4 separate regions of the Homo sapiens genome follow, and all the other regions are linked to region 4. The links come from fine-mapping of genetic effects on plasma protein levels. Region 4 holds a variant in brackets. A gene starts in each other region. All regions are shown on their forward strands.

The links. PIP is the chance, under the fine-mapping model, that this variant and not a neighbour inherited with it causes the effect. Protein levels are from antibody-based Olink assays in UK Biobank. Linkage for the fine-mapping came from a reference panel and not from the study's own genotypes, which makes the PIPs less certain.
Region 1: TIMD4 starts here. The variant in region 4 is fine-mapped to the plasma level of the TIMD4 protein (UK Biobank, PIP above 0.99).
Region 2: it holds the start of IL6ST, and the variant in region 4 is fine-mapped to the plasma level of the IL6ST protein (UK Biobank, PIP above 0.99).
Region 3: it holds the start of VWA1, and the variant in region 4 is fine-mapped to the plasma level of the VWA1 protein (UK Biobank, PIP above 0.99).

What each region holds. Positions count from the first base shown.
Region 1 is chr5:156,961,007-156,966,154 of GRCh38, forward strand. It overlaps TIMD4 (T cell immunoglobulin and mucin domain containing 4), which reads right to left and starts at 2,220. Exons shown (of 9, transcript NM_138379.3): 1 at 2,135-2,220. The coding sequence starts at 2,192.
Region 2 is chr5:55,993,502-55,998,628 of GRCh38, forward strand. It overlaps IL6ST (interleukin 6 cytokine family signal transducer), which reads right to left and starts at 1,462. Exons shown (of 17, transcript NM_002184.4): 1 at 1,283-1,462. IL6ST-DT (IL6ST divergent transcript) reads left to right here and starts at 1,666. Exons shown (of 2, transcript NR_102755.1): 1 at 1,666-2,053. RefSeq lists cis regulatory regions at 230-2,548, 1,242-1,915, a silencer at 1,193-1,672 and an enhancer at 1,504-2,015.
Region 3 is chr1:1,432,357-1,437,499 of GRCh38, forward strand. VWA1 (von Willebrand factor A domain containing 1) reads left to right here and starts at 3,334. Exons shown (of 3, transcript NM_022834.5): 1 at 3,334-3,465; 2 at 4,571-5,128. The coding sequence starts at 3,393. It overlaps LOC107985729, which reads left to right and starts at 877. Exons shown (of 4, transcript XM_017003066.2): 1 at 877-932; 2 at 1,607-1,715; 3 at 1,840-2,046; 4 at 2,180-3,193. The coding sequence starts at 877. The coding sequence ends at 2,794. LINC01770 (long intergenic non-protein coding RNA 1770) reads right to left here and starts at 2,217. Exons shown (of 2, transcript NR_125996.1): 1 at 1,832-2,217. RefSeq lists enhancers at 13-756, 2,245-2,988, 2,248-2,307 and silencers at 2,093-2,387, 3,134-3,503, 3,262-3,451.
Region 4 is chr3:155,826,337-155,831,484 of GRCh38, forward strand. SLC33A1 (solute carrier family 33 member 1) reads right to left here. Exons shown (of 6, transcript NM_004733.4): 5 at 3,352-3,567; 6 at 1-2,041. The coding sequence ends at 1,874. Among named protein-coding and RNA genes, the nearest start is that of C3orf33, 23 kb to the left of the region's middle. The variant C/T (reference allele first, on the strand shown) is at 1,999.

The DNA.
Region 1 (5,148 bases), not on the chromosome of region 4:
AGAATAGTACAAGTTTGAGAGGTGATGAAACACATTTGTTTTCCTTCAAATATGGGTGTTTTCTCATGCACCATGTTGGAAAGGTTTCTGCACATACAAAGAGCCAAGAGGTAGAAGAAAAAATGTTTAACATTGCTAATCACTGGGGAAATGCAAATCCAAACCACAATGAGGTATCACTTCATTTCTGATAAAATGGCTACTATCAAAAAGACAAAAAGCAAGCATTGCTGGCGAGGACGCAAAGAAAGAGGAACTCTCGTACGCTGTTGGTGGGAATGTAAATTACTACAGCCATTATGGGAAACAGTATGGTGATTCCTTAAAAAACTAAAAATAGAATTACCATATGATCCAACAATCCCACTACTGGGGATATATCCCAAAGAAAGGAAATCAATTAAAGAGATATTTACTCTCCCATGTTTATTACAGCACTATGCACGATAGCCAAGATATAGAAGCAACCTACGTGTCCATCAATGGATGAATGGATAAAGAAAATGTGGTATATGGCCAGGTGCGGTGACTCACGCCTATAAGCCCAGCACTTTGGGAGGCCGAGGTGAGTGGATCGCCTGAGGTCAGGAGTTCAAGACCAGCCTGACCAATATGGTGAAACCCCGTCTCTACTAAAAATACAAAAATTAGCCAGGCATGGTGGCAGGCGCCCATAGTCCCAGCTACTTGGGAGGCTGAGGCAGGAGAATGGCGTGGACCCAGGAGGCAGAGCTTGCAGTGAGCCGAGATAGAGATAGTGCCACTGCAGTCCGGCCTAGGCAAAAGAGCGAGACTCCGTCTCAAAAAAAAAAAAAAAAAAAAAAAAAAAAGAAAGAAAAAAAAAAAGAAAATGTGGTATATAAACACAGTAGAATATTCAGCCATAAAAAAAGAATGAAACTCAGTCATTTGCAACAACATGGATGGAAACAGAGTTTATTAATATTGTGTTAAGTTAAGCTAGGCACAGAAAGACAAATATTGCATGTTCCCACTCATACATGAGAGCTAAAAAAGTTGATCTCATGAAAGTGGAGAATAGAATGATAGTCACTGGAGTCTACAAAGGATAGGGGAAAAGGGGTATGAAGAAAGGCAGGTTAATGGGTACAAAAATACAGTTAGTTAGAACATGAGGAAAAAGGGAAAAAATACAATTAAATAGAAGGAATAAGTCCTAGTGTTTGATAGCATAGTGGGGTGCCTATTGTTATTAATAATTTCTTGTGTATTTCAAAATAACTAGAAGAGAACATTTGAAATGTTCTCAGCACAAAGAAATTTAAATGTTTCAAGAAATGAATATCCCAACTACCCTGATTCGATCATTGTACATTGTATGTATATATCAAAATAACACATATGTAGCCCATAAATATGTATAGTTATTTTGTATCCATTTAAAAAAAAAATGGACTTTTGTAAAACTGCAAGGGCCATTCAATATTATCTTGTCCTAGAAGCACAGATTGTGACAACTGGTCATTTAAAAAGCCAGGTCTCTCATTTCAAATATGGGAGAGCCAGAGCAATTTAGACATATTCCCAGTGTCAACAGTTAGTGCCCGAGACGCAGCTGCAGCTCAGGCCAGAACACTTGGCTCTATACCACCAGGATGCAAAGAACTTCACTGGCCAAAACTGAGTGTGTACACTTGCATCATCCAAAACCCAAAAACAACGTGCAGAAAAGAAACCTTACATAAAGCCTCACCCCAGCAAAACAAAACAAAAAGCAAACACTTCTAAAAACAGAGGGAATGATAAGAATTATCACAATTCTCACCAGAACAAATTCTCCTGGCTTATTGATTATATGAATAACACCCATAGAGGAAATCTCTTTTCCCCAATTTATCTGACCACTTATTTCTGTGTCTCTTCTTCAGTTGCTGTTTCCAATATAAGCCCAAATTACCCCAGCCTAAAACCCCCAGACCAGTCTCTGGATAAACCTCTGTGTAACAAGGCAGGACAGAGACCCTCCACAGAAGGAAGCCTGGTAGGGAGAGGGGAGGGATGCAGAAATGAAGTGAGCTTCTGCTTCACTGAGGCCCAAACCAGTGCATGGAAATCCATCACACAATAGCAAGTCCTCTGGAAACTTCTACATAGAAGGTTTCAGAACACTTACTCAGGTAAAGCCACCAAAACTCAATCATCAGCCAGAGAATGAGAGGTTCTTTGGACATTTTGACGGTTGACCGGACCCAGGAGTCTGTCTATCTATCCAAAGCCCAACCTCTTATATCCCAGTTAATGCTGACAGGGTGGGACTCTTTAGTTTCATTTCTCTTTTTGCCTCATAATCTTCCCTTTCTCCTGTCCTACATGGCTTCCCCCAATGGGCGATGCATGATGAAATGTGCTGAGCCCTTTTCTCCTGGTGACTAGTGTGTGTGTGGAGGGATGGCGTGGACATACTTGTGCTTCTTTGTCCATGTGTATAGTGGGTTTCCTATATGTGCACAAGCATCCATGCATGTGCTGGTGCAAATATGCCTGTATAACCTGTGCATGTGCCACAGTTGTCCCAACTGCTGTACAGCCTGTCACAAAGTGCAATTGACTCTCCATACTGGCAAGTGTTTACATGTAGATTCCTCATGGGGCCAAAGCATAGTTAGACTGAAAGTTGCCTCCATTCCCATTCTAGGTTCTCCCTCACCCTGTCCCCTGGCCTCCTTGCCCTAATAATGGAGAAAGAAAAGTGAGGACAGGCACAGTGGCTCACACCTGTAATCCTAGCACTTAGGGAGGCCGAGATGGGAGGATCGCTTGAGGCCAGGAGTTTGAGACCAGCCTGATCAACATGGCGAAACCCCATCTCAATTTTTTATTTAAAAAAAAGTTTAATAAAAAAATTAAATTTTTTTTTAAGTTTTAGGAAGACACTGAAGCCCAGAACTTCCTGATTCCAAAGCTTATGGTTAATCACTACATTGTCCTTTGACCTGTGACCGTTTGGGTAATGTATCCATATGATGAGGCCTACCTGTGGCTAGCTCCTACTTAGTACCAGGAAGAAAATATAAGAATTCACAAATGTTCTAGATTTTTAAAAATCCTTAATTGATTGTAAACAGCCAGCAAACCTCAAACATTCAACATTGCTTCTACTGAAGGTATCAGTGAAAAATCTAAATATCAGGTGAGGTTCTAGACCCAGAGAAGCCAGACTAACATGAGCAGGGATGAAAATAACGGGATTCAGAGTGAATCTTCCCACTGAATGCCCACAGAACCAAGGGATCCTTTCCCCATTCTATCCCAGGAAACTGGAGGATTTAATCTCTGGATAAACTAAGTGGTCCCAATAAAACATTTTCAGATATTTATAGTTTTGAGTGTTCCCCAACAAAACCACTCAACCCTCCTTCAATAAGTTCATCAGTGCATGAGCCTCAGCCATGCATGCAGAACTGTTAATGAGTCTTTAGTGTCCCTTTCAGATATGAACAGATAACCAGGGATCATCAGACATTTGAGGAAAGCATTTAACATAAAAAAGAGACAAAAATAACAGGGAGAGCTAAAGAGAACTTCAAAAACTTTTTAAAAAGCTAATATTTTCTCAGAAAGAAAGATTTTACATTCATGAAAAAGAACATAGACATTATAAAAATGTCCCGAATTTTATGGAAGTTTTGAAAAATAAAGTTAAGAAAATTTGTTAGAAATTATAACCATCTACAAAGTCAAAGGACTAGGATTGTTTCAGAACATTAAAAAAGAAAATAGAGGAGAGGAAATTACTAAAGAAATAATAAAGGAAAGACTCTCGTAACTAAAGGAGATGACTCTCAGTATTGAGCGGGTCAATCAAATGCTAAACTCAATGAATAAAAATATCCCCAAAAAGCAAGACATTATCATGTAATATGAGAACATCAGACATAAAGAAAAGATACGAAAAGACTCCAGAGAGAAAGAACAACATATTGCACTGAATGGATTTGGAAATAGAATGGCATTGTTGTTCCAAACAACAAAGCTAGAAAATAATGCACGAATGCCTTCAAAATTCAGAGGGAAGGCCGAGTGTGGTGGCTCACATCTGTAATCCCAGCATTTTAAGAGGCCAAAGTGGGTGGATCACTTGAGTCCAGGAGTTCCAGAATAGCCTGGGCAACATGGTAAAAACCTGTATCAGCCGGGCGTGGCGGCTCACGCCTGTAATCCCAGCACTTTGGGAGGCCAAGACGGGCAGATCATTTGAGGTCAGGAGTTCAAGACAAGTCCCAGCAACATGGCAAAACTGGTCGCTACTAAAAATACAAAAATTAGCTGGGTGTGGTGGTGCATGCCTGTAATCCTAGCTACTTGGGAGGCTGAGGCAGGAGAATCACTTGAACCCAGGAGGCAGATGTTGCAGTGAGCTGAGATCATGCTACTGCACTCCAGCCTGGGTGACAGAAGGAGACTCCATCAAAAAAAAAAAAAAAAAGAGGAAAAGAAAATCTATATCTGCCAAAAATACAAAAAATTGGCCGAGTGTGGTGATGCGCACCTGTGGTCCTAGCTACTCCAGAGGCTGAGGTGGGAGGATTGCTTGAGCCCGGGAGGTGAAGGTTGTAGTGAGCTGAGATTGTGCCACTGCACTCCAGCCTGGAAAACAGACAGAGAACCTGTGTCCAAAAAAAAAAAAAAAAATCCAGAGGAGAAATTTAATTTCAACCTAGAATCCTACTCGCAGACAATCTATTTCTCAAATGTAAGATCATAATAAAGGCCTTTTTGGACATAGATTCAAAATTTACTTACTATACTTCCTTTCCTAGAAGTTATGGAAGAGAAATCTGTAGCAAAACGGGAGAAATAACCAGGAAACAGAAAGTCATGGGGTCCAGAAAACATGACATCTAACTCCAGGGAAGAAAAATTTCACAAAGAAAACTGCAGAACAGACCTAGAGGGGAACTGTTTCACTGCATCACAAACCACCCCAAAACCTAGTGCCTGAACAATGTCAATGTACTTTTCATGATTCCCTGGGATGACAGTGTTCAGCTGGGTAGCTCTCACCCAGTGACAGTGGCTATCTCAAGACTAGATTGGACTATTTGTCCAAGATAACTTTCTCACTCACATGACTGATCATCCAAAATGACACTTCTAGCTGGACTTGTATGTCTAGCAAATTAATAG
Region 2 (5,127 bases), not on the chromosome of region 4:
TATTATATTAAATTAGGTGGCAGCAGTATTTATAATAATCTAAATTGCCTGTGAGAAAATTAAACTGGTATTGTCAATACATACTTAAAATAAGAAAAAAATCCCACTACAGTCTGTCCTTTTTGACACTTTCTCCTTCCTGTAATTTTTTTCTTTCACTCAAGATTAAAAACAAACGTTCAAGATTATCCCTAAAGAGAAATAGTTGGAAAGCACAATTTAATAGCAAGTTGGTTCTATAAATGTAATATTTCAGTTCATAGTTCAAAAATACTTCCAAATAGGAATTAACATGAATTTAAGAAATTAACATAATGGCACACAGCTAAACTGATGATCTGAGTCCGTAATTTCAAATTAAGAGTTGTTCCAACTTGAAGCTGGCAGTCATACACAGTTTAAAGGGTTTGTTTACAGCACTGTCAAAAGCAAATACCACAATCTTTCAGAAAATTCACCCTGGCATTCTAATAACTAGTTATTTTAAGGCAGTATAATTGTTGAAATACTTCACAAACTAAGCCAAAATGCGTTTCCTTCTGAAGGCAAAAAAAAAAAAAAAAAAAAAAGGTGACGTCTTATTTTTAACCTGTGATTTTTTTTTTTTTTCAGTTTCGGATTATGAAATAAAATGCTGTTCATCCACTGAAGAACAGACCCTTGCTTCCTGCACTATCTTCAAAAGTTTAGGTCGGAGGAGGTAAAATTTTAAAAACTGATTTGTTCTCCTTGGGATACAGTGAGATGTGGAATTCGTTAGGAATGATAATTATTAATAGAAAAGATCAAAAGAAGGAAAGAAACGTTAATAGTGTTTATAAGCATTGTGAACTTTCAACAAAGCTGAAACGTTACGATTTCAAGATGAAAAAACGGCTTTGGGGAAGGGAAATCCACCTCGAGAATGAAGACAAGTGCGGAGCGAATAGAATTTCAGGGGAGATGAAAAGGGGATTGGGAAAAACGTGGGATCTGGTAACAAAAAGGGGGGTTTGTTCTTGAAGGGCGTTCTGCGGGGCGGGCGTTAAGAGGGGTGCGTGCGTGCGCCTGGGTGAAGTTTGTACTCAGGGCTGCGATAATCGAGGTGACAAAGTTGTGGAAGTAGAATTCGGAGGTCCGGGAGCAGGAAGGGGAAGGAATGTGGGGATTTCCAGGCTGGGCTGACAAGTTCCGGGCGCTGCTCTCAGGGGGAAGGGAGGTCTCCTCGAGTGCCAGATAGCCCGTCCGAAACCACCGACACTCTAACTCCAGCTACGCGACCCAGCACCCGGCCCCTCCTCACCTCAGGCCGCGCCGCCTCGACCCTCCGCGTCTCCACAGCGCACGAACCCCTTGGCGCCAGGCTGGGCCAGACCCGTCGGCCTGGCAGGCGCGGCCCCCGGTTCAGCTGCGCCGGGGCGGCCCAGCGCGACTCCGCGGGCCTTTTGGCTGCTCGCCCCGGCTCCGGAACACTGTCAGATCCTTCTCCGCAGAGGTAGCGCGCCACCCCAGTCCCGCGGCGGGGCGGGGCGCTCCCCAATCCCGCCCAGCTGCGCCCCCGGCCGGCCAACGCTGCGCCCCGCCCCCTACCGGGACCTAGGCGCTGATTGGCCCCTGAGAGACCCTTTGCGCCCAGGCATTGGTCCAGTGGCCGCCTGTCGACGAGGGGGCGGGACTCCGAGGGGTAGCGATTCCCGTAACGCGGCTCTTCGCGTCCCGGATTCCGGTGGCTGCGTCCGCGTCGCCTCTCCCAGACTAGATCGAAGGGTTCCCCCCACCTCCCCTCTGTGGGCGGAAAGAGCGGAATGTTCCATTTTTCTGTGGAATAACGGGGTCATGAACTGGAGCCCGGGTGCTGCCCGCCGCCCGCTGCCCCCGCCCTCCCTTCTCGCCAGGGCGCCTGCGGCCTCTCTTCGCGGCCTTCCCCGAGGGACTCAGAGCCGCGAGGGACCGCCTAGCTCCCTTGGGGATGGGGAAGGCGTGGGAGCCTCTTGGGGAAAGTGAAGAGCTCGGTGGCCGTGACTCCGCACGAGACTGCGGCAGATTGTGGCGGCGGCTTCTCTCCAAGACTTACGTAAACGAGCCTTGCCACAGTACTTTTTTAAATTAGTAAATGAGTTTGGGTGCGATTGATCAGTGAGCCCCAGAGGTGGTGGCCCACCAAGCGACTAGTGTTTCTTTGCGGTTTGTACCTCCCCGTTTATGATAAAAAATACCGGGTAAAAACCTATTCATCCCGCCTCCGCCCCCCCCTTTCCCTCAGAAAATGGACCTCAAGGCTCATGATGTTTGTTTCTCCCCAAAGGAAGATGAGAATCTTGAGTTAAAAGATAAGGCATGTGCGTGCGTGCGTGTGGGGTGTGTGCGTGGGTGTCTGTAAAAGTAAACACCCAAAGGTAGAGGTTTTTGTGGAAGAATGAGAGGATATAGGAAGGAAATAATGGTTTAATGAACTTAAATTATATCCATAAATTAACAATTATAAAGTTCTTCATTATATTGAGGATTCAGATAGAGTAAAACATAGATCGAATTTTAATCTCTTAGTTGTTGATCAGATAATTTATAAAAGGGCAAAGTGGGCCTGCTAACGGAGTCGCAGGCAAAGTAGATGGTGCTGCAGCTGATGTGTTCAGCTCTTGCTCCTCCCTGTCATCCTATATCTAACCTATAGATTGTGACCAGATTCTGTTCTAGCTTTGCCATTTAGAGGGGTGTTTATTTTAAAACAAATTTTTATAAAAATTTGTTAAATTGAAAATTTTGTATAGATCCAGGAAACTTGATTTTTTTGTTGTTGTTCACAGTCTCACTCTGTCACCCAGGCTGGAGTGCAGTGGCTGGATCATGCTCACCGCACGTTCAAATTCCTGGGCTCTAGCGATCCTCCCACCTCAACCTCCCAAGTATCTCAGACTACAGGTGCCCCTACAATACCTGGCCAATTTTTAAAATTTTTGGAGAGACAAGATTTTGGTATGCTGACCCGGCTGGTCTTGAACTGCTGGCAACAAACGATCCTCCGGCCTTAGTGGCCTCCCAAAGTGCTGAGATAACAGGTGTGATGCAAAGATGTATTTAGGGGAGATGTATAGTGGTTAAATGTACCCTCTGGTTCTAGATTGCCTAGGTTTAAATGCTGATGCCTCTATTTCTCATCTCTGTGACCTTGGGCAAGTCTTTTCAAATTTCTTCATCTGCAAAATGAGAATAACAATACCAACCTAACAGGATTGTTGCAAGGATTAAATGAGTTAAAATACATACAGTGTTTGGCACATAGTAGGTGCTCTGTAAGTATCAGCTATAATCATTATTGAATGTCTACTCGGTCAACACTTCTGAAATATTTTAGTATCACAACATATATTAAAAATGATGATATTTTGCTGGACGGGGAAGGGCAGGTACACAGAAGTGGATTGATATGTCACAACACACCAGCCTGCCTTGGCACCATTAGGAAAACAAATGACTGAGTTAGTGCTTTTATGGGTGTCTTTTTATTGGCTCAGCTCAGGTCCTGCTCCCAAGAAACTCACATTTTATGGGAGTAGTTAAAGTCTGAGGCCAAAAGGATGAATCAATATTGGAGAAGTATTTTTCAGAGCAACAGGACGGAAGACCTCTGCTGTGCTGGAATTACATGACTTTGCAGATACCTCTGTAGAGTATTGGCCTTGAAATTACGAATTTCAGATTAAGGATTTGTTACTAGAAAGCCTTGTCAAAATGCAAAGGTAAGTAGGGGAAAGTAGTATATTAATGGAGAACTCTCCATTTGTGTCCTGTGACCATTTGAGATTTTAGATATGTCAAGAGCAGGCCGGGTGCAGTGGCTCACACCTGTAATCCCAGCATTTTGGGAGGCTGAGGCAGGCGGATCACTTGAGGCCAGGAATTCAAGACCAGCCTGGTGAAACCCCAACTCTATTAAAAATACAAAGATTAGCCAGGCATGGTGGTGGGTGCCTGTAATCCCAGTTACTTGGGAGGCTGAGGCACGAGAATCACTTGAACCCAGGAGGCAGAGGTTGCAGTGAGCTGAGATCCTGCCACTGCACTCCAGCCTGGGTGACAGAGCAAAACTCCTTCTCAAAAAAAAAAAAAAAAAAAAAAAGAGATTGAGGAAACTGTACAGTGAGAAAGTAACATGAAGGCACCAAAATTACAATTACTTGGGAGTAAGTGAGCAAAGCTTAGGAAATTGTGCCATGGAACAAAGGTGATAAATGTCAAAGACAAACTTTGCCTGCATTTCTAATTCCCTAAATCTGGTGCTGACTAGGATATCCCTTTACTTCCTTGTCTGTGCCCAGTTATGTTTCTGAAATTCTGTGTCAGCCCTGGAATTATCCTCATGTTCTGTATCACCTTAATGATTTCAGCATCCATGTTCATGACTCATTAGCACTCTGACCTCACAATTTCTCATCGTTTTCTTTTCCAATCATCTTCAACTTCACTCTGTATCAGCAACCCACAGATGGAGCCACACCTTCAACCTAGTCATCAATGAAATTACTTCCCCTCCAAAATGCTGGATTGTGAGTTTCCCTCTCTGTACCTACAGCCACCTACCCCCATCTATCTCTATTCTGTGGTCATTCCCATTGAATCTGTAATTTGTCCTCAATGTGACAGCCTGACAGCCAGTCTTTCTTCTCATAGTTTATCAGCTGTTTCCTATCATTTTTTATCTTACTTACCAGTAAGAACCCCCTTTTTTTTTTTGAGACGGAGTTTTGCTGTTGTTGTCCAGGCTGGGGTGCAATGGCACGATCTTGGCTCACCGCAACCTCCGCCTCCCTGGTTCAAGTGATTCTCCTGCCTCAGCCTCCCAAGTAGCTGAGATTACAGGTGCTCACCACCATGCCTGGCTAATTTTTTGTACTTTTAGTACAGACGGGGTTTCACCAAGTTGGCCAGGCTGATCTCAACTCCTAAAAGTGATGGGATTACAGGGGTGAGCCACCGCCCCCCAAGAACCCTTTTATCAACCATTTTAACTGCACTATTCTCTTCAGTTCCCTTGACCTTCAGCTATGTTTACCTTATCAGGCTATTTCCTAACTATTTCCTTTTTCCTTGAGCTATCAGCCCCACCGTAACATTTATTCTTAGTACAGAACCTTGTTTTACTCCCTT
Region 3 (5,143 bases), not on the chromosome of region 4:
ACCTCCTGCCCCTGTCGAGGCCGGCAACACCCTCCACCCGGCCACCCCTCCCGAAGGCCCCCAGCCTGCTCTGCCCCTGCAGTCCTGGCGCAGGCCCCTCCTGCCCACCCCACCCTGCTCTCAGCACTCGCGGTTCCTTCTCTCTGCCTGGAAGGCTCTTCCTCGGGTACCCCTTGCGTGCGAGTCCCCAGTGACCCCCTGTTCTCACAGGGAAAACAAGTAGACCGTATCTTTCCTAGCTGTTCACCGCCCACCCTCCTAGCCTGGCAGTGCTGGCCCGGCGCCTGTGTGTCCCCAGCACTGAGGCTGGGGCGCGGCTGTGCCCAGCACACAGACGAGGGATGGATGGACAGACGCAGATGGTGCAGCTCCCACCCCTACCCAGGCTGCTACCCGCCAGGTGTCTACCCGCCACCCCAGCTGCTGCTGGCACGGGGGACTGAGGGGGGTCAGCTCTGGGGCCAGAGGGGCAGGCCTGGGCTCCTGGGAAGTGAAAAGTGACCCCCGAGGCCCCCAAGACCTGTCCTTGACCCCAGTGAGCAGGTTGAGTCTAGGAGCTGCGTGGGCCCTGCTCTCTTGGTGACCCCTGCTCTGCCCCACTTACTGTTGTGGGGTGGGCTCAGGCACACCCCAGAGCAGTGCCTCAGGCCCGCACCGCTGCCCCTCACCGCCGCTGCCCCTCACCGCCGCTGCCCCTCACCACTGCTGCCCCTCACCGCCCCGTCCATCTGCTCCTGTGTGTGCTTGAGTACGTTTGTGAGATACGTGAAAACAGCAACAAAAGGCGCCGGGTGCGGGCCTGGGCGTCCTGCCCTCAGCTCGGGTCAGGGGTGGGGTCAGAGGCCTCAGGAGTTGCCCTTTTACCCAGGGTCAAACATGACCACAGCCAGCTGGGGACAAAAGGCCCTTCATCTTCTGCAGAAGCCTGGATTGTGCGGAGGAGGGAGCATTCCCAAAGGCGGGTGGGGGCAGGGGCGGTGCCCGGGTGACAGCAGCCTCCCCAGCTTCCTGGAACTCTCTCCACCTGCCTGCAGACAGACCGGCAGGGCAGGCTGGCTCCGGGAAGTGAGGCACAGGGACTCCCACAGCCCAGGCCCAGACCGTGGGGGCGGGGTGGCCGCAGCCAAACCAGGCTGCTCCCCACCCCATGGGGCCCCAGGCCACCAGGATCAGACAGGGGCTGTGCCTGCAGGAGGCAGAGGGCTCGGGGCCAGCACCCACTGTGATCTGGCCTGACCCGTCCTTGCCTCTGCCTCTTACCCCGGGCCCTTCTCCCTGGAGAGTGGAGGGTTCCGGCTGTTATATTTGTGCTTCCTCCGGTGTCTGCCTCAAGTCCGGCCCGGGCCCTGACACTGCACCTCTGGCTGACCCCATGCTCTCTGGGACCCTCTGTCCACGTCCCTCCTCCGGGGTGGAGACAGCGGGGGGAGGGCAGGACACAAGAATGAGTCCTGAAGACTGAGGGGCACGGGGAGAGCTGATGGGGAGGGTCTCCTAGCTGGAGGGACTCCAGGCAGAGCCGGGAGCAAGGCAGGTGGCTGAGCTCGGCCCAGGCTGGGTGGAGGCCAGGCCTCCTGTGCCTTCTCCCGCTGATGGCGAGCTGAAGGGAGGAGGGCGGCCGCTTCCTTGAGGGCCTGAGTCACAGCCAAGAAGACCCGCTCACTTTTTCCAGAAGTGAGGGAAACTTCCCCGTCAGCCCTGCAAGGCTGGCTGAGGTGTGACTGTGGCCCGCCTGCTGGGCGAGGGTGGGGGACAAGCGGGCCACTGGCTGTGAGCCTCCCCAGGGTGGGGGACCCTCGGCCCAGCTCCCTGCCTGACTACCTGGACGTGCCTCCGCAGGGTCTGCAGCCAGCTTCCGGTCAGACCCCAGGTCCTCCAGCGGCTGCGGCCTTCAGCGTCATCTCCACGGCAGCCCCTGTGTACTGGGGGCTGGGGGGCCTGGCGAGGCCCCTCGAAGTGGTACAGCTTGCACTCTGGGGACCCAAAGTCCCCCCACCGGGCCCAGGCGGAAGCACCAGGCATTTCTGGTCCCAGCCGAGGTCTGAGGTCTGTGGAGCGCAGCCAGCACCTCCACTGCCAAGATCCCCGGCAGGGGGGGTGGGGGGCGCCGGCGGGGACACAGCTCTCCCTTGTTCCTGCCGCCAGCTCCTCAGCCTCAGCCTGCTGCTTCCTTTTTTAGGCAAAGTCGAGTGCTGGCCGTCCGCACGGCCCCGCGGTGTCTCACCTGCCTGAAAGGGAGGAAGGAAGCCTGTGGAGCCCCATCCGTTCTCCCGCGGCGCATCCTCCAGGAGAGGGTGGGGAAGGAGGAGACATCCTGGCAGACACCCCCCCACGTCCCCCACCTCCCAGCTCTGAGCTGAGGAGGCCCTGGAAGAGGGCCATGGCTACTCCGAGGGAGGGCCGGGGTAGGGTTCTCCTGTCCAGGGGACACTGCTGGCCCAGCCCCACCCAAGCAGGGGAAATCTGCCCTGGGAGCCACTGTCCCTCAGGACGCCCCCTGCAACCAGCCACCTCTCGTCTGGGCCTCACCAAGACCCCAAGACTCAAGAGCTCCTGTCTCACCAGTGGGACCCTCCAGTCCTGCTGGGGGTGTGTCCTGGGTCCTGGAGTCTGGGCCCCTCACTGGGTAGGGTATATGGGTAACAGGCCCAGTGTGGTCCCACTGGACAGGGCCTCAACCAACCATCTCCCACTCCCATGCCTCTTCCTCCAAGAAGCCCAGGTGGCGTGGGTGCTTCGAGTCTCTCTCGAATTCCTGTCTTCTGTCCCCTTTCAAGCCACTGTGTCCTTGTAAGTTCCACCCCATGGTCCTTCCCATCCCTGCTGGTCAGTCCCTGGGATACATGTCCTGTTACTCCAGACACCTATCCGCCTCCAGCGCGGAGGCCAAGGCGAAACCACGGTCTGGACGTGTTTTTTTGGTGCCACCGCCAGCCCCTGGGGTTCTCTTGGGCCTGGCTGCTGGGACCCCAGCACCCAGAGTCACGGCAGTGGTGGGCATGGGGAGGGCCTAGCCTGGTACCTCCCTGCTCGGCTCCCGCGGCTGGGGGTCGGAGAGGGGTGGAGAGCGTGGGCCGCACAGCCTCGGCCGGGAGAGGGAGACTGGAGTGTGTGTGTGTGCGTGCCTGCGCGTGCGTGCCTCGGTCGTATCTCGGCTGGTGCTGCGTGTCCCTGCGTGTCGGGGTCCGCTCGTGCGCGCCTCTCCGGGGTCTGTGCGCGTGGCCCTCCGCTCGCGCCGGAGGGCGTGGGCGTGGCCTCGGCGTGGGTGTGGCCGCTCGGGGAGGGGCCTCCCGGGGGCGGGGCCGGCCTGGTCCGCGCGGTGACGCGCCCTGCAGCCCCGAGCGAGCGAGCGAGCGAGCGAGTTGCCGAGCGCGCCCCGTCCCTCGCGCGCGATGCTCCCCTGGACGGCGCTCGGCCTGGCCCTGAGCTTGCGGCTGGCGCTGGCGCGGAGCGGCGCGGAGCGCGGTGAGTGCGGCGGGCGGCCGGGCCGGGGCTGGGGCTTCTGGTGACCGCTCTGCGCCGCTGCCCGCGCAAGGCCGTCGCTGTCCCCTGCTCCGGACGGGCGGGCGGGCTGGGAGGCTGCGGGAGCCGGGCGGGGGCGCGGGCGGAGCGTCCTGCTCACCTGAGGCTGGCGGCCCAGGTGCTCCAGGCGACACCGTCCGTGAGCGCCGGGGCATAGGGGCCGTCCCGGCCCGCATCTCTGCGGGATCGCGGGCCTGGACAGGAAGAGGGAGATGTCTGTCAAGGGGGCACCCCTGCCTCAGTTTCCCTACCCTTGCGAGGGCCCTTAGTGGAGGGATGGTAGGGAAGTTGGAGTCGCCCCACCGCACTGGGGAAAACCGCAAGGCCGGGACTAGAATTGAGGCACGCTGGTGCCCTGGCTTGGTGGGGAGGGGCGGTGTAGGGGGCATCAGCCTCCACCCCGGAGGTGCCCGGAGGAAGGGGGAAGCCTGCGAGGGGCTGTTCCGGCTTTCAGGCTGCTGGGGGTTATATCTTGTTGTGTGAGTCCAGGTGGGCTGGAGGATGGAGGCCAGGGGAGGGGCCACCATCTAGTAAGCGGGGTCTGGGCTCCAGCCAGGCCATCCGGCGTGGTCATTGCTGTGCCTCCGACACCTTCCCCTGCTGCTGTGTGCATGCCCAGGGTGCCTCACCTGCAGGCTGAGCTGCGTGGCTGAACTCCAGCCTCAGGCTGCTCCTCTGAAAGCCATGCCTGGAGGGAACAGCCCCACGGCTCAGGCCTGTCCTGGGGGCCTAGGCCAGGACTCTTGGCTCCACCTGCTTGCAGGGTCTGTGAGGAATGGGAAGGTGTGGGGGCTTGGAGCGGAGAGTCGCCCTCTCACAGATGGGATAACACAAGCCCAGAGAGAGCCCTAGATCCCATGGCCAGTGTGCAGTGAAACCCCCAAAAGTACAGGCCTCTTGCTTAGAGTTCCTCTTTCCCCCAACCTAGGACCTTTGGGAGAAGGCAAGCATCCACTTAAGGAAAGCTGGGGCCCTGGGGGACCCTGCCTTGCTGTGGGGCTGTCTGGGGGGCCCACACCTGAGGCTGAGCATTCCTCCTTTCCCCCAGGTCCACCAGCATCAGCCCCCCGAGGGGACCTGATGTTCCTGCTGGACAGCTCAGCCAGCGTCTCTCACTACGAGTTCTCCCGGGTTCGGGAGTTTGTGGGGCAGCTGGTGGCTCCACTGCCCCTGGGCACCGGGGCCCTGCGTGCCAGTCTGGTGCACGTGGGCAGTCGGCCATACACCGAGTTCCCCTTCGGCCAGCACAGCTCGGGTGAGGCTGCCCAGGATGCGGTGCGTGCTTCTGCCCAGCGCATGGGTGACACCCACACTGGCCTGGCGCTGGTCTATGCCAAGGAACAGCTGTTTGCTGAAGCATCAGGTGCCCGGCCAGGGGTGCCCAAAGTGCTGGTGTGGGTGACAGATGGCGGCTCCAGCGACCCTGTGGGCCCCCCCATGCAGGAGCTCAAGGACCTGGGCGTCACCGTGTTCATTGTCAGCACCGGCCGAGGCAACTTCCTGGAGCTGTCAGCCGCTGCCTCAGCCCCTGCCGAGAAGCACCTGCACTTTGTGGACGTGGATGACCTGCACATCATTGTCCAAGAGCTGAGGGGCTCCATTCTCGGTATGCGGGAGGAGG
Region 4 (5,148 bases):
AGATTGCACCACTGTACTCCAGCCTGGGTGACAAAGTGAGACTCTGTCTCAATTAAAAAAAAAAAAAACTATGTTTGAAAGTATATATAATTTGTAATAATATACACGGGAAGAAATAAAAGGTTATTATGGCAATCTGAGTTTCTTAATCCAAAAATTAAAAATCAAAACACATTTCATATGTAAGAGTTAAGTGGTTTTTTTTCTTTATTCAAGTAATCATTTAGACTCTAATACATGATAATGGACAACCATGTGACAAAGTACTGTAGTGTATGGTTTGGTGTAGCCTCCTTGCCTCTAGGATGGGATTTTTTCCAGGTGATTCTTCAGGATCTGACATCGATGCCCAACACAGGCTTTCCAATGGCAATGCATGAGTTCTAGAGGTCACTGCCCCATCTTTCTTCAGGTGCTGTGTGCCATTTTCTCCCACCCATTTTATCCTCCATTACTTATAAAAACCCCACTCTAAAATTCAACCTATGTTATAAAATTAACAAAATCAGGAGTTAGTACACATTTTTCCACAATGATAAAATTAAGACTCATAATGTACTATCTTGTTTCGTCTAACTTTTGGAGGATTTATATAATCTCTAAAGAGTCAGAGTAATACATAACACAAAACATGCAAAGAACCTTATCACTGGGTGTATGTAATACGCTGGGAATTGCTAAAGTACTCAAAAGCTTAATTTTCTTGGAATAGCAACTGTCCACTGAAAACTATAGTATTCAAACAAAAGGTTATGTGTTAATACATGAAAATACAGTACCTGATTTGGCATAAATTGTGAGATCTTTTTCACTAGTAAAGTGCTTAATTAAGAAACATTTTTCCACTATTAGATTTAATTTGTCAAAGGCACAAAATATCTTTGTCTCTCTCTTTAAAGTATTAGTTTTTTAAATTATGGTACTGCCCATTTAAATTTTACTTAATCAGAAAGCTTTACTGTTTTTTTCTCTCAGCAATTAAAAAAAAACTACTTGAAGAAAAACATTTAATTTTTATTTTCAAAATGTTGCCATAAACATACATACAACACTGAATTTGATCCCCTCCATTGGCTGTCTGTGTGCCAGGAAGCACTTGTGACAGAAAACATATATAAGCTTAGGGTAAAAGTTTATAAGGAATCAAAATATCTTCCAAAAAGAGGGGGTAGGGGCAAGAGGAATCAATAAGTTTAAAAATCATAACTTTCATTTTATAAAAAATAGTTTGAATAATTTTCTTATAAATCTTTAATGCTTACAAAAGCAGGAAATACATTTAAAATAGTCTTTTTAACACAGATTCATTTGTACAATGTGGTCATAAGAAAAATAACTAAAATGACATTTCAGTAGTCTATATTCTTTTCTCAGCAAATTCCACATAAAATTTAACTAATTTACAATTCAAAATAAGATTTTAACTGCCAACAATGTCAGACTAGTTGTGGTTAGTACCTGAATATCAAGCTCTTCTCCATTTTATATATTGTACCAAAATTTTAAATACAGCTCAGCAGTGATAGGTACTAATAACAATACCTGACTACATGGTTACCACCCGTGACTACTGCATTGCAGCTTAAAACATGCTTTGGTCAGTAAATTTAAAAGATATACATCAAATAACAAGGCCAGAAAAGTTGTTTTAGAATTTCCTGACCTTAAGTAAACTTTAAATACATTGACAAGGCAAAAAAAAAATATGATCAAATATACAGAAAGGTTTCTATTTTTTCAACCATTTGGCATTTTATATTATTAATTTCGCTGTTTAAAATAATATTTTATACTCCTGTGCACTGATTATCATTGCTCTCCGAATTAAAACTAAACTACAATTACCTTGCTAGAATGTCCAGTAGCATATATATTAATTGTTCCTTTTGCATTTCCACGAAGATGATCCTTCATCCTGTAACTTTTTAAATTTTGGACCAAGAAAGAACCACCAACCAAATCCAATGAAAACACAAATAATGGACTCCACATAATAAC[C/T]ATCCAGGGCTGTAACACATGAGCCACCCAGTTTTTTGCAAAGCTGTAAAAATAAAACTATAATAAATACTCCACAATTTCAAAATGAAAGTATTTAGCAATTAACATGCTTCTACTTTATAAAGAATAAAAATATATTTTTCTTAAAACATTTCAGTATTTCACTGAATTCCAATGACAAAATATGTTAATGTATCTTAATCTCTCTAATGCTACTAACAGGATTAAAAACAATTTTCAGTTCTTGCTGTAAACAATACTCATTTTCTTTTTTGAGACACGGTCTCACTTGTGGCCCCGGCTGAAATGCAGTGGTGTGATAATGGCTCACTGCGGTCTCTGGCTCCTGGGCTCAAGCAATCCTCCCACCTCAGCCTTGTGAGTAGATAAGACCACAGGCGTGCACCACCATGCCCCATTAATTTCTACATTTTTTGTAGAGATGGTGCTTCACCATGTGGCCCAGGGTGGTCTTGAACTCCTGGGCTCAAGCAATCTGCCTGCTTCAGCCTCTCAAAATGCTGGAATTACGGGTGTGAGCCACCATACCCAGCCGAATATGTTTTTTTTTTTTTTTTTTTTTTAAGAGACGGAGTCTTGTTCTGTCGCCCAGGCTGGAGTACAGGGGCGCGATCTCAGCTCACTGCAACCTCCGCCTCCCAGTTCTAGCAATTCTCCTGTCTCAGCCTCCTGAGTAGTTGGGACTACAGGCACACACCACCCCGCCCGGCTAATTTTTTGTATTTTAGTAGAGATGGGGTTTCACCGTGTTGCCCAGGCTGGTGTCAAACTCCTGAGCTCAGGCAATCCACCCGCCTTAGCCTCCCAAAGTGCTAAGAATACAGGCGTGAGCCACTGCACCTGGCCCGATTATCTATTTTCACGATGCAGCTTTCACATTCGGAAATGTGAAGAAATTTCCAGTCCATCTACTCTAGAAGTAGACAAATACCACTTTGAAAGAATTTATCAACAAACCACTCACTATACAGGTTTAGTTATCACTGTTATAGGAATAGCCAATGGACATTCCCTTTTTCTATCACTACAAAACTTAAGCTATTAATTATGCATTTATATAGTGCCTGCTGTGTAGGACAGTGATCGTCAAGGTGGGGGAAAGAGAGATCGCCTCTCCTTTACTGAGAAACGCCTTTAAGGGAACTAGTCTTGCTGATTTGAATGATTATAACCCTCAGCCTTGATGTGAAAGAAAATATATATGTAGATTTCTAAACCAGAACCTATGGACAGATATGATTTTTAAAAAAGATATAGTACTTCTAGAGACAAAACAAAGATATTAATATCTTAGTATTAGCTTAATGTTATCTAAAATTAAAACATACTTACCTCAACAGCATCAGGTGTTCGACAATTCTGGTTTGATGCTCCTACACACTCTTTTACTGTGAGGGGATCTACAAGCCAAAGAGCTACTGTAGAAGGCCAGTTTCCTCCCAGATTGGACACGGTATTTAAAAGGGTCATGTATGTTCCTCCAATAAGTGGATCACTAACCTTTGCATTGAAAGCCATTATAGAAACATACATGCTGTACACTGTAACCTACGGAAAAATGTAAAACATCTTTAGTATGATTATAAAGCTTATAAAGCTACAGTCTAAATTAAGAACATCAAAGTCATAAACCTGAAATTAATTTTCATGGTATTTATTGAACTCAATTCAACAAATACTTATCAAGCACCTACTATAGGCCAGGCTTTAAGATCACAGCAATACAGGCCGGGCGCGGTGGCTCATGCCTGTAATTCCAGCACTTTGGGAGGCCAAGGCGGGCGGATCACAAGGTCAGGAGATCGAGACCATCCTGGCTAACACGGTGAAACCCTGTCTCTACTGAAAAATACAAAAAAAAAAAAAAAATAGCCGGATGTGGTGGCAGGCGCCTGTAGTCCCAGCTACTTGGGAGGCTGAGGCAGGAGAATGGCGTGAACCCGGGAGGCGGAGCTTGCAGTGAGCTGAGATCGCACCACTGCACTCCAGCCTGGGCGACAGAGGGAGACTCAGTCTCAAAAAAAATAAATAAATAAAAATAAATAAATAAAAAAAAAGATCCCAGCAATACAAAGATGTGACCTTGGTCCTTCTGTGACATTGAAGAATTTATTCTAGGCTGGAAAATGGGGAATAAATAATTATAAATACAGGAAGTACTGTAAATAGAAGTGCACACATTGTGTTACTGGGGCATAAAGATAAATGAGAGATTAATTCTACCACAAGTAGTCAAGAAAGACTCCACGGAGAAAATGTTAGATGAGGTGGCACTAAAGGATACATAATGCATACAGCAAAATGCAAAACCTCATATTTGTACTGTACCTAAATATGTATCATATATTGCATGTGTATATATACATATTTATATGTATGCATTTATTACATATATAAATACTCAAATATTTAAAGAAATAGGAATATATATATTTTTCTCCTACATATACACAAGAAAAGTATTTCAAAATTTATGTGACAAACTGGAGAAAAACATCCTTAAGAGGCAAAAAGTACTTAAAAGGCAAGAATTAACCTTTAATTTAGAAAGATGGAAACAAACTGTGTTTCAATAATGGTATTCCTTTGAATAGTGTTTTTGGGGGTGTTCACAGAAAAAGGAGTTCCAAAGTCAAATAAGACTGAAAGACACTAACTTACACAAAATTGAAAAGGTTCCTTTCATTGTATGCCTTTTGAAATATTTACAACATACACTCCTTGAGGGCAGGGATTTGGGCATGATTTATTAAGTTATATTTCAGTACTCAGAATGGTTTCTGGCAGGGAATAGGTGTTCACTTAATATTTGTTGAAGAAGCTGGGTGCGGTGGCTCACACCTATAATCCCAGCACTTTGGAAGGCCGAGGTGGGCGGATCACCTGAGGTCAGGAGTTCAAGACCAGCCTGGCCAATGTGGTAAAACCCGTCTCTACTAAAAATACAAAAATCAGCTGGGTGAGGTGGTGCTCATCTGTAATCCCAGCTACTTGGGAGGCAGAAGCAGGAGAATCACTTGAACCCGGGAGGTGGAGGTATCACAGTGAGCCGAGATTGTGCCACTGCACTCCAGCCTGGGCAACAGAGTGAGACTCTGTCTCAAAAAAAAAAAAAAAAAAAAAAAAAAA